3 separate regions of the Homo sapiens genome follow, and regions 1 and 2 are each linked to region 3. The links come from fine-mapping of genetic effects on gene expression. A gene starts in region 3. Each other region holds a variant in brackets. All regions are shown on one strand. Distances are between the middles of the regions.

Region 1 (2,758 bases), 88 kb after region 3:
CTTTATGGCAAGCACTATCCTCATTAGACACTACACCAAGTCCTTGTGCATACCCAGCCCCCACGCAGGCAGGCTCGAGCCTCGTGCTAGAGTCGAACATGTGCTGGCTGAGGCAGACACATCTCTGAGAACACATTTGTAGGCCATCAGAGAGGGTCTCCTAGAGAGGAAGCAGCCCACCAGAGGGTTGAATAGGAATTCACCAGGCTGAGGTGGTCCCAGGCAAGGGTGGAGAGAGGGTGCATCTGGGGACCCAAGAGCCGGGGAGAATATCAATTGCAGCTGTCATCGGTGAGCCCCCTGTGCCAGAGTGCATGGCAGACACATCCGTGCACTTCCTCCCACCCTTGGGCCTCCAGAAAGTCTGCTTTCTGGTGTCATTCAAAGAGGAGGTGAGCCGGGCGTGGTGGCTCACACCTGTAATCCGAGCACTTTGGGAGACCAAGGCAGGTGGATCACTTGAGGTCAGGAGTTCGACACCAGCCTGGCTAACATGGCAAAACCCTGCCTCTACTAAAAATACAAAAATAAATAAGGCATGGTGGCACATGCCTGTAGTCCCAGCTAACTACTTGGAAGGCTGAGGCACGAGAATTGCTTGAACCCCAGAGGTGGAGGTTGCAGCGAGCTGAGATCAGACCACTGCACTCCAGCTTGGGCGACAGAATGAGACTCCATCTCAAAAAAATAAAAAATAAAAAGGAGGTGAGAGTGGCTCAGAGAGGCTGGTGCCTTGCCCAGGGCCACAGGCAACAGCAGGCAGCCCTGGGCTTAAACCCAAGAAAGGAAGCCTGTGCCTCGAATTTGAGGTCTCAGAGGGTGGCAGATGAGCTTTCCTGAGAGACAAAAGAGGGAAATAGCATCTGTGAAAAGACATAAGGAACTTAGTCTGGTGCTTACTGTGCCCTGATTCCTGGTCACCTGTGGGCGTGTGTCAGGGGCCCTGATGGTGACTGGTTGTGGTGGCTCTGGTGCTCGGGATTGCGAGCAGCTCCAGAACCTGGGTGACACCACCTCCCCACTCACTGGGCCACAGTGGGCTGCAGAGACTGTTAATGCTGAGGCTTCTGAGCTGGGAAAATTAGCAATAGCAGCACAAAGAAAATTACCCTCCATCTGCTTCCAATGACAATGGTAGGACCAGAGAGATCCCAAAACCTGAACAGAGGAGGAAACTCGGAGCCACATCCAGGACAGGCCTCCAGCAGGTAGGAAGTGCAAGTAGGAAACGCATCAATGATTTAGGGAGGAGGCTGCTTTTGCTAGTAAGGACAGTGGCCAGAGGGCCACTGAGAGCCTCCTCTCTGGCATCTTACAACAAATGGGCACCGAGCAGGTTGTCCTGAGCTACCCTGATGGTGACCAAG[T/G]TGTTGTCCAGGAATGTTTCCATCCTGCCCTGAATGCCGGGTGCTGGACCTCCTCATGGCTGCAGTGCCCTGGGGTTCACGTCACCAGCCCACCACTTTGTGGTTGGCGTCAGCTCGGGGAGTGTAGGCCTGTGGGGCTCCGGCTGGTGAGGGTGCAGGTAACTAGCACTTTCAGCCCTCAGGCATGGTGGCTCATGCCTGTAATCCCAGCACTTTGGGAGGCCAAGGTGGGCAGATCATTTGAGGTCAGGAGTTCGAGACCAGCCTGGCCAAGATGGTGAAAACCTGTCTCTATTTCTTGTAAAAATTCAAAAAAAATTAGCTGGGCGTGGTGGCACATGCCTGTAGTCCCAGCTACTCAGGAGGCTGAGGCAGAAGAATCTCTCGAACCCGGGAGGCAGAGGTTGCAGTGAGCCAAGACCGCGTCACTGCACTCCAGCCTGGGTGACAGAGTGAGACTCTGTCTCAAAAACCAAACAAAAAACAAAAACAAAAACAAAAATGATGTCAAGGGATATTTGCTGAAGCCTCATCCATAACCACAAAAAAAAAAAAAAAAACAACGGTAAGGAGCCTAAATGCCCACCATGGGAAAGTGTTGAACTAGTCTGTGATGTGGGGACAGCAGGCAGCTGCAGAAGCACTGAGTGAAGATGCAGAGGACGGATGAATCCTGACCCTGCTGAAAGGAACATAACTGAAGATCTGCGCCGAGGAGGAACCCAGGGCTTGGGAATTCCATGTGCCATTTGTTTCCTTCTTGATTCTTTTCCCTTCTTTTCTATATATTCTATAATTAGGACTTTCTCATTTAGAAACCCTTAAAAATTTAAAAATGGAAGGCCTTTTTAGATTTTTTAATTTTAATTTTTATTTATTTATTTATATATTTTTTGAGATGGAGTCTTTCTCTGTCACCCAGGATGGAGTGCAGTGGCGCGATCTCAGCTCACTGCAACCTCTGCCTCCCAGGTTCAAGAGATTCTCCTGCCTCAGCTGGAATTACAGGCATGCTCCACCACGCCTGGCTAATTTCTGTATTTTTAGTAGAGACAGGGTTTCACCATGTTGGCCAGGCTGGTCTCGAACTCCTAGCCTCAAGTAATCTGCCTACCTCGGCCTCCCAAAGCGCTGGGATTACAGGCGTGAGCCATCGCGCCCAGTGTTGTTTTGTTTTTTTTTTTTTTTTTTTTTTGAGACAGGGTCCCACTCTGTCACCCTAAGATCCCTAGCAGGAGCTGATATTCACAGAGCGTGTTATGGCTGCTTCACTCCGGCTTTCACACACATGATCTCATTCAAATCCCCATGTCATGAGAAGGTGACAGTGGGCAGCGTGTGACCACTGAGCCGTCCTTACAGTGGATGGAGGTCAGAGAACTGCCCTCTGA
Region 2 (2,758 bases), 250 kb after region 3:
TTAACACCCCTGAATCAGAAATGGACAGAGACAGCAAGCAGAAAATCAGTAAGGATATAACTGAACTTAATAGCACTTAATGGCACCATCAATCTACTGGATACAACTGACATCCACATAATATCTCAACCAACAACAGCAGATTACACATTCTTTTCAAGCCCACAGGGAACATTCACCAGGACAGACCATATTCTGGTCTGCAAAACACACCTTAACAAATTTAAACAAATAAAAATCATACAATGTCTACTCTCAGGCCACAATAGCATTAAATTAGACATCCATAATAGAAAGATAGCTGGAAATCCCAAAATACTTGGAGATTTAACAACATACTTCCAAGTAACACTTGGGTCTTAGAAAAACTCTCAAGAGAAATTTAAAAAATATTTTGAACTAAATAAAAATGAAGATGTAATTTACCAACATTTGTGAGATGCCGCAAAAGTAGCACCTACAGGGAAATTTATAGCACTGAATGCATCGATTAGAAAAGAAGGAAGATCTAAAATAAATAATCTAAATCTTCACTTTAGGACACTAGGAAAAAAAGAGCAAATTAAATGCAAATAATAAATAAAATAAAAGAAATAGAAGAAATCAATGAAATTGAAAACAATAGAGAAAAATCAATGAAACAAAAAAGATCAATAAATTAATCTTTAAAAAGATCAATAAAAATCATATGCTTCTAGCAAGCAAACTAAGAAAAACAGAGGACACAAAGTACTAATATCAGGAATAAAAGAGGGGGCATCCCTGTATGTCCCATGGATGTTAAAAAAATAAAAGAATATTATGAATAATGCTATGTCCACAAATTTGATAACCCAGATGAAATGGAACAATTCCTTAAAAGACAATCTGCTAAAACTCATACAAGAAGAAATATATAATTCAATAGGCCTTTATCTATTAAAGAAACTGAATAACACTTTGGGAGGCTGAGGTGGGCAGATTATTTGAAGTCAGGAGTTCAAGACCAGCCTGACCAACATGGTGAAACCCCATCTCTACTAAAAATACAAAAAAATTAGCCGGGCATGGTGGCGTATGCCTGTAGTCCCAGCTACTTGGGAGGCTGAGGCAGGAGAATTGCTTGGACCAGGGAGGCGGAGGTTGCAAT[G/A]AGCCAAGATCGCGCCACTGCACTCCAGCCTGGGTGACAGAGCGAGACTCCATTTTAAAAAAAGAAACTGAATAAACAACTAATAAACTTTCAAAACAGAAAGAACCAGGACCAGATAGGTTCACTAGTGAATTCTACCAAACATATAAATGAAGAAATTATACCAATTCTCTACAATCTCAATACTTCGCAGAAAGAATATTTCCTAACTTCTATGAGGTTAACGTTACCCTAATACCAAAGCAGACAAAGCCATTGCAAGAAAATTACAGACCTATATATCTCATGAACATAAACGCAAATATCCTCAACAAAATATTAGAAAATTTAATCCAACAAGGTATAAAAAGAATTATATACCACAGCCAAGTGGAATTTATCCCAGGTATGCAAGGCTGGCTCAACATCTAAAAATCAATAAATGTAACCTATCATATCCACAGGCTAAAGAAGAAAAATCACATGCTCATATCAGTAAATACAGAAAAAGCTTTTAACAAAATCCAATACCCATTCATGATAAAAACTCTCAGTAAACTACAAATAGAGGGGAACTTCTTCAACTTGATAAAGAACATCTACAAATAACCTACAGTTCACCTAATTACGAGAAACTTAATGGTGGGAAACTTTAAACTTTCCCACTAAGATCAAGGACAAGGCAAGAATGTACTCTCTGCCCCTGCTTTTTAACATCATACTAAAAATATTTGATAATACAATAAGACAAGAAAAGGAAATTAAAAGTGTACAGATTGGGAGGGAAGAAATAAAACTGCCTTTGTTTACAGATGACATGATCATCTATTTAGAAAATCTGAAAGAACCAACTGAAGAACTTCTAGAACTAATACTTGATTATAGCAAGGTTGCAGGATACAAGGCTAATATACAAAAGTCAATTGCTTTCCTATATACAGGCTGAGTATCTTTTATTTGAAATGCTTGAGACCAAAAGTGTTTTGGACTTCAGATGTTTTCAGATTTTGGAATATTTGCATATACATAATGAGATATCTTGGGTATGGGACCCCAGTCTAAACACAAAATTCATTTGTGTTTTATATATACCTTATACACACAACCTGAAGGTAATTTTATACAACATTTTAATAATTTTGTGCATGAAACAAAGTTTGTGTACATCGAGCCTACAAAAAGCAAAGGGTATCACCCATGCGGACCATCTGTGGTTGTTTGGCATCAGCCTCACTTCTGACTCTGGATTTATATGCTACCAATAAGCAATCATTTTCTTACAATTATTCACACATAAGTATTTAGCAGTAAAAAATATGACATATTATTAATACAGTGAAAAAAATTACATGTTCAGAGTAACTAAGCGGCACAGTAGCCTCTCCAGAATACCTGTATCAGCTGTTAAACAACAGCAACAACAAACAATGGCAGGCTTTCAGTCTCTACCTATGATGCTGTGCTTTGATTAAAAGGTAAGTGTATACTTTTTTTTTTTTTTTTTTGGTGCAAGGAAACATCAGAAGTGGTTAAGGGACCAGTAAGTGGGTCCTCTGTGGATGAGGAAACATTCTGCTGGATGGCTTTTAAAAATATTTTTCTGCAGTCATCTGCCTCATCAACAATGGTCATAGAAATCTCTCTTTTCAC
Region 3 (2,758 bases):
GTAGCCCCCACAAGGGAGCTGCCCCTGTCCGCCTCCTCGCAGCCATGTGGCGGGAGCTCCAGGTCCTCGCTGGGCCCCGGGGCTGGAGTCCGCGGTAGGGGCTGCACGTCGCGCCGCGAGTTCTTCCTGCGAGCCCCGGCGCTCAGGGGCGGCCAGTGCGCGGGGGCGGGGGGCTCTCCCTCGCCCAGCTCGCGGCCCTGTCCAGGGAGCGACTCCGGGGCCGCCGCGTCGGGGAGCCGATCGCGCGCCTCGGGCCCGGCAGGGCCGTCGGGGGCCTCGGGCTCGGCGGTCACCTGGATTCGCGGCGGGTCCCCGGAGGGCTCGGACGGCCCTTCACAGAACCTCTTCTTGAGGTGCACGTACTTGGCGCCGTCGGCGGGATCGACGCGCACAGTGGCCACGGCGTTCACCAGCTCCTTGAAGTGCGCGCGGGCGCGGGCGCGCTGCTCCGGTTCGCCGCCTAGGGCGCCCCTGAAGTGCTGCACCAGCTCGGCGTGCAGGGCCCGGCCCCCGCGCTCCGCCAGGAAGCGCAGCACCGCCTCGGGGCCCAGCGCCGCCTCGGGGCCCCACTCTGCCGGCCCCTCCATCCTCGACCGCGCTGCTCCCCCGCCAGCGGGCGGCTCAGCGCGGTCCCATAGCGACGGGCTCCCAGCGGCCGGCTCCCGACGGCGGCGGAGTCTGGCGGGCTCAGCGGGCTGCCAGCCTACGCGTCTGAGGCCAGAGGACTCGGCCACCGCCTCACTGGGCCGCGCCCGGGCGGACACGCCCCCCGCACCCCCGCCCCGCGCCCACGCCACCAGGCCACGCCCACTTCCGCTCCCCGCTGTCTCGGCCACACCTACCTAGGGCGGCCTCGCCTCAAGGCCCGCCCACTTCCGGCCTCGCGAGGGCCGCAATCACTGCTCCGCAGTTCCCGCCTGCATTCCTCGCGCCGTCTTCCTGGAGTCCCAGCTCTCCTTCAGCCCGCCCCAACGCTGACGCTCAGTCCTCAGGCGTCGAGGGTAGCTCCTGTGAGGGGCTCGCTTGGCGCAGGCAAAACGCTCAGCGCGCACCACAGGGCGTCCGCCCCAACCCCGCCCCCGGAGGCCTCCAGCTCGGCCCCGCCCCTGTCCCTTCCCCGTCGCGGAGGCAGCCTAGCCTCGCGCCCCGCCCGTTGCTTCTGCCCTCCGGCCTTCCCGCCGCCGTCGCCGGGACCAGCCGCTCGGGGCCGGGCTGATACAGCCGCTTCACCGTGCCCCTGCCCGCGACCATGGCCTCCTCCGAGGTGGCGCGGCACCTGGTGAGTCCCGCCGACGCCGGGGCCCCAGCCCCGCGCTCCCCGGCCCCCGCGGGACTTCCCGCCCTCGACCCACCGGCCCCCTGGTCCGGCCCGGGATTGTGACCCGCGCCCCCTCCGGCCCCGCCCGCCCAGTGCTCCCCGGCTTCCGCGGCGGCCGGGCGCCTGGGGCGGGAGAGGAGCCTCTGCGGAGCCTGGGCGCGGCCGGACCCCGGTTCGCGGGGCGCGGCGCCAGCGTCGGGACGGTGGGAGAGTTCTTGAACGACTTCCCGGTCTTTGCCAAAAGTTACATCCACAGCGGTGTTTGTGGGTCTCTTACGGCTATAACGGAGTTGAAGGCGCAGTGCGGACTGATTGAATAGCGGTCATCTTTTGCAGCCGTGAGCACTTCCGAGCCTCCCTGCCGCCGGGAGAAAGCCCGGCTCCCCTGGCTTTTCAAAAGCTCTCCCGTTTTATCCGATGGTGTGGTCGTCCAAGTTTTCCTCCATTGGGATTTTAAACCGTTTTTTTCCCGCCTTGACTCTTTTGTACTCTAAAAGAACGCGTTTGTTCACTGTTTTGAACCTTTCCAGTTACTTTTGTAGATTTATCTCGCTTGTTAGTAAGCCAGCGGTTTTCCAAGTGTGGTTACAACTATTTTCGTTAATAGTACCAAGGTCGTGTACATCGAGTTTTCCAAAGGCTACATGGTATGGAGTGATCTCACCGCCGTTTGGAGGCCCGATGCCTGTGTATTCTTAAAAACAAATTCTCCCTTTTAATTTTTGATAGTAAACATTGGTGGTTTTCATCTGTGTAAACAAAAGCTCTTTGGAGGCTGGAGACCAAAAAGTTTGAGAACCACTCTACTAAGCAACCTCCTACATGAGAAGTTTAAATTGTAGAAACAGTTCAGATTGCAGGCTGAGAGATTAGAGGATCCGTCCAAAGTGACACCGTTGGTTTGTTTTATAGAACCTGGACAAAGATTTTTCTCCCTGATTCAGCCCAGGTCTCTTTTCATTCTATCGCGTATTTTTTAAAAATCTCAAATTTTCTGTCTGGACCCCCTTGTCTCAGTTGCTGTGTTTGTGTGCATGTGTGAGTGAGGGAAAATTGAGGGGTCCTGGTGAGGAAAATGTGTTTTATAAATTCTTTGATTCATAGATTACGTATCCAAACAAGCTTGAGCAGAAGAGAACACTTCATTTAGCTGATGTTAGATTTATTTTTAATTGTACTTAATTTGCTTTGAGGCTAACTTTACTTATTTTCGAATTAAACTGTATTTTGCGTTAATTGTAGATTAATATGCAGTTGTAAGAAATAATACAGTATAGTGAGAACCCTGTACCCTTTATCCACCTTTCCACAATAAGATCTGGCAAACCCATAGTACGATATCACAACCAGCATATTGTCATTGATTGATACAGTGAAGATAAAGGATGTTCCCAGGACCAGGAGGATCCCTTAATGCCTTTTTATAACCACACACACTTC

Direction of the effects. Positions count from the first base shown, and alleles are read on the strand shown. Sizes are in standard deviations (SD) of each study's normalised expression. Not every link is listed here.
As copies of T replace G in region 1, the expression in substantia nigra of the gene that starts at base 1,111 in region 3 goes down (small effect, 0.27 SD a copy in GTEx).

Evidence for each region.
Region 1: its variant is fine-mapped to the expression of SEPTIN10 in substantia nigra (GTEx, PIP 0.95).
Region 2: its variant is fine-mapped to the expression of SEPTIN10 in subcutaneous fat (TwinsUK, PIP 0.95).

What each region holds. Positions count from the first base shown.
Region 1 is chr2:109,524,249-109,527,006 of GRCh38, reverse strand. It overlaps a transcript of RANBP2 not described here. Among named protein-coding and RNA genes, the nearest start is that of SEPTIN10, 88 kb to the left of the region's middle. The variant T/G (reference allele first, on the strand shown) is at 1,368.
Region 2 is chr2:109,359,919-109,362,676 of GRCh38, reverse strand. All of the region lies in intron 2 of SH3RF3 (SH3 domain containing ring finger 3), which reads right to left. It also overlaps a transcript of RANBP2 not described here. Among named protein-coding and RNA genes, the nearest start is that of MIR4266, 48 kb to the right of the region's middle. The variant G/A (reference allele first, on the strand shown) is at 1,130.
Region 3 is chr2:109,612,319-109,615,076 of GRCh38, reverse strand. It overlaps SEPTIN10 (septin 10), which reads left to right and starts at 1,111. Exons shown (of 11, transcript NM_144710.5): 1 at 1,111-1,279. The coding sequence starts at 1,250. It overlaps SOWAHC (sosondowah ankyrin repeat domain family member C), which reads right to left and starts at 713. Exons shown (of 1, transcript NM_023016.4): 1 at 1-713. The coding sequence starts at 587. It also overlaps a transcript of RANBP2 not described here. RefSeq lists silencers at 660-829, 1,090-1,339, 1,370-1,459 and an enhancer at 1,312-2,221.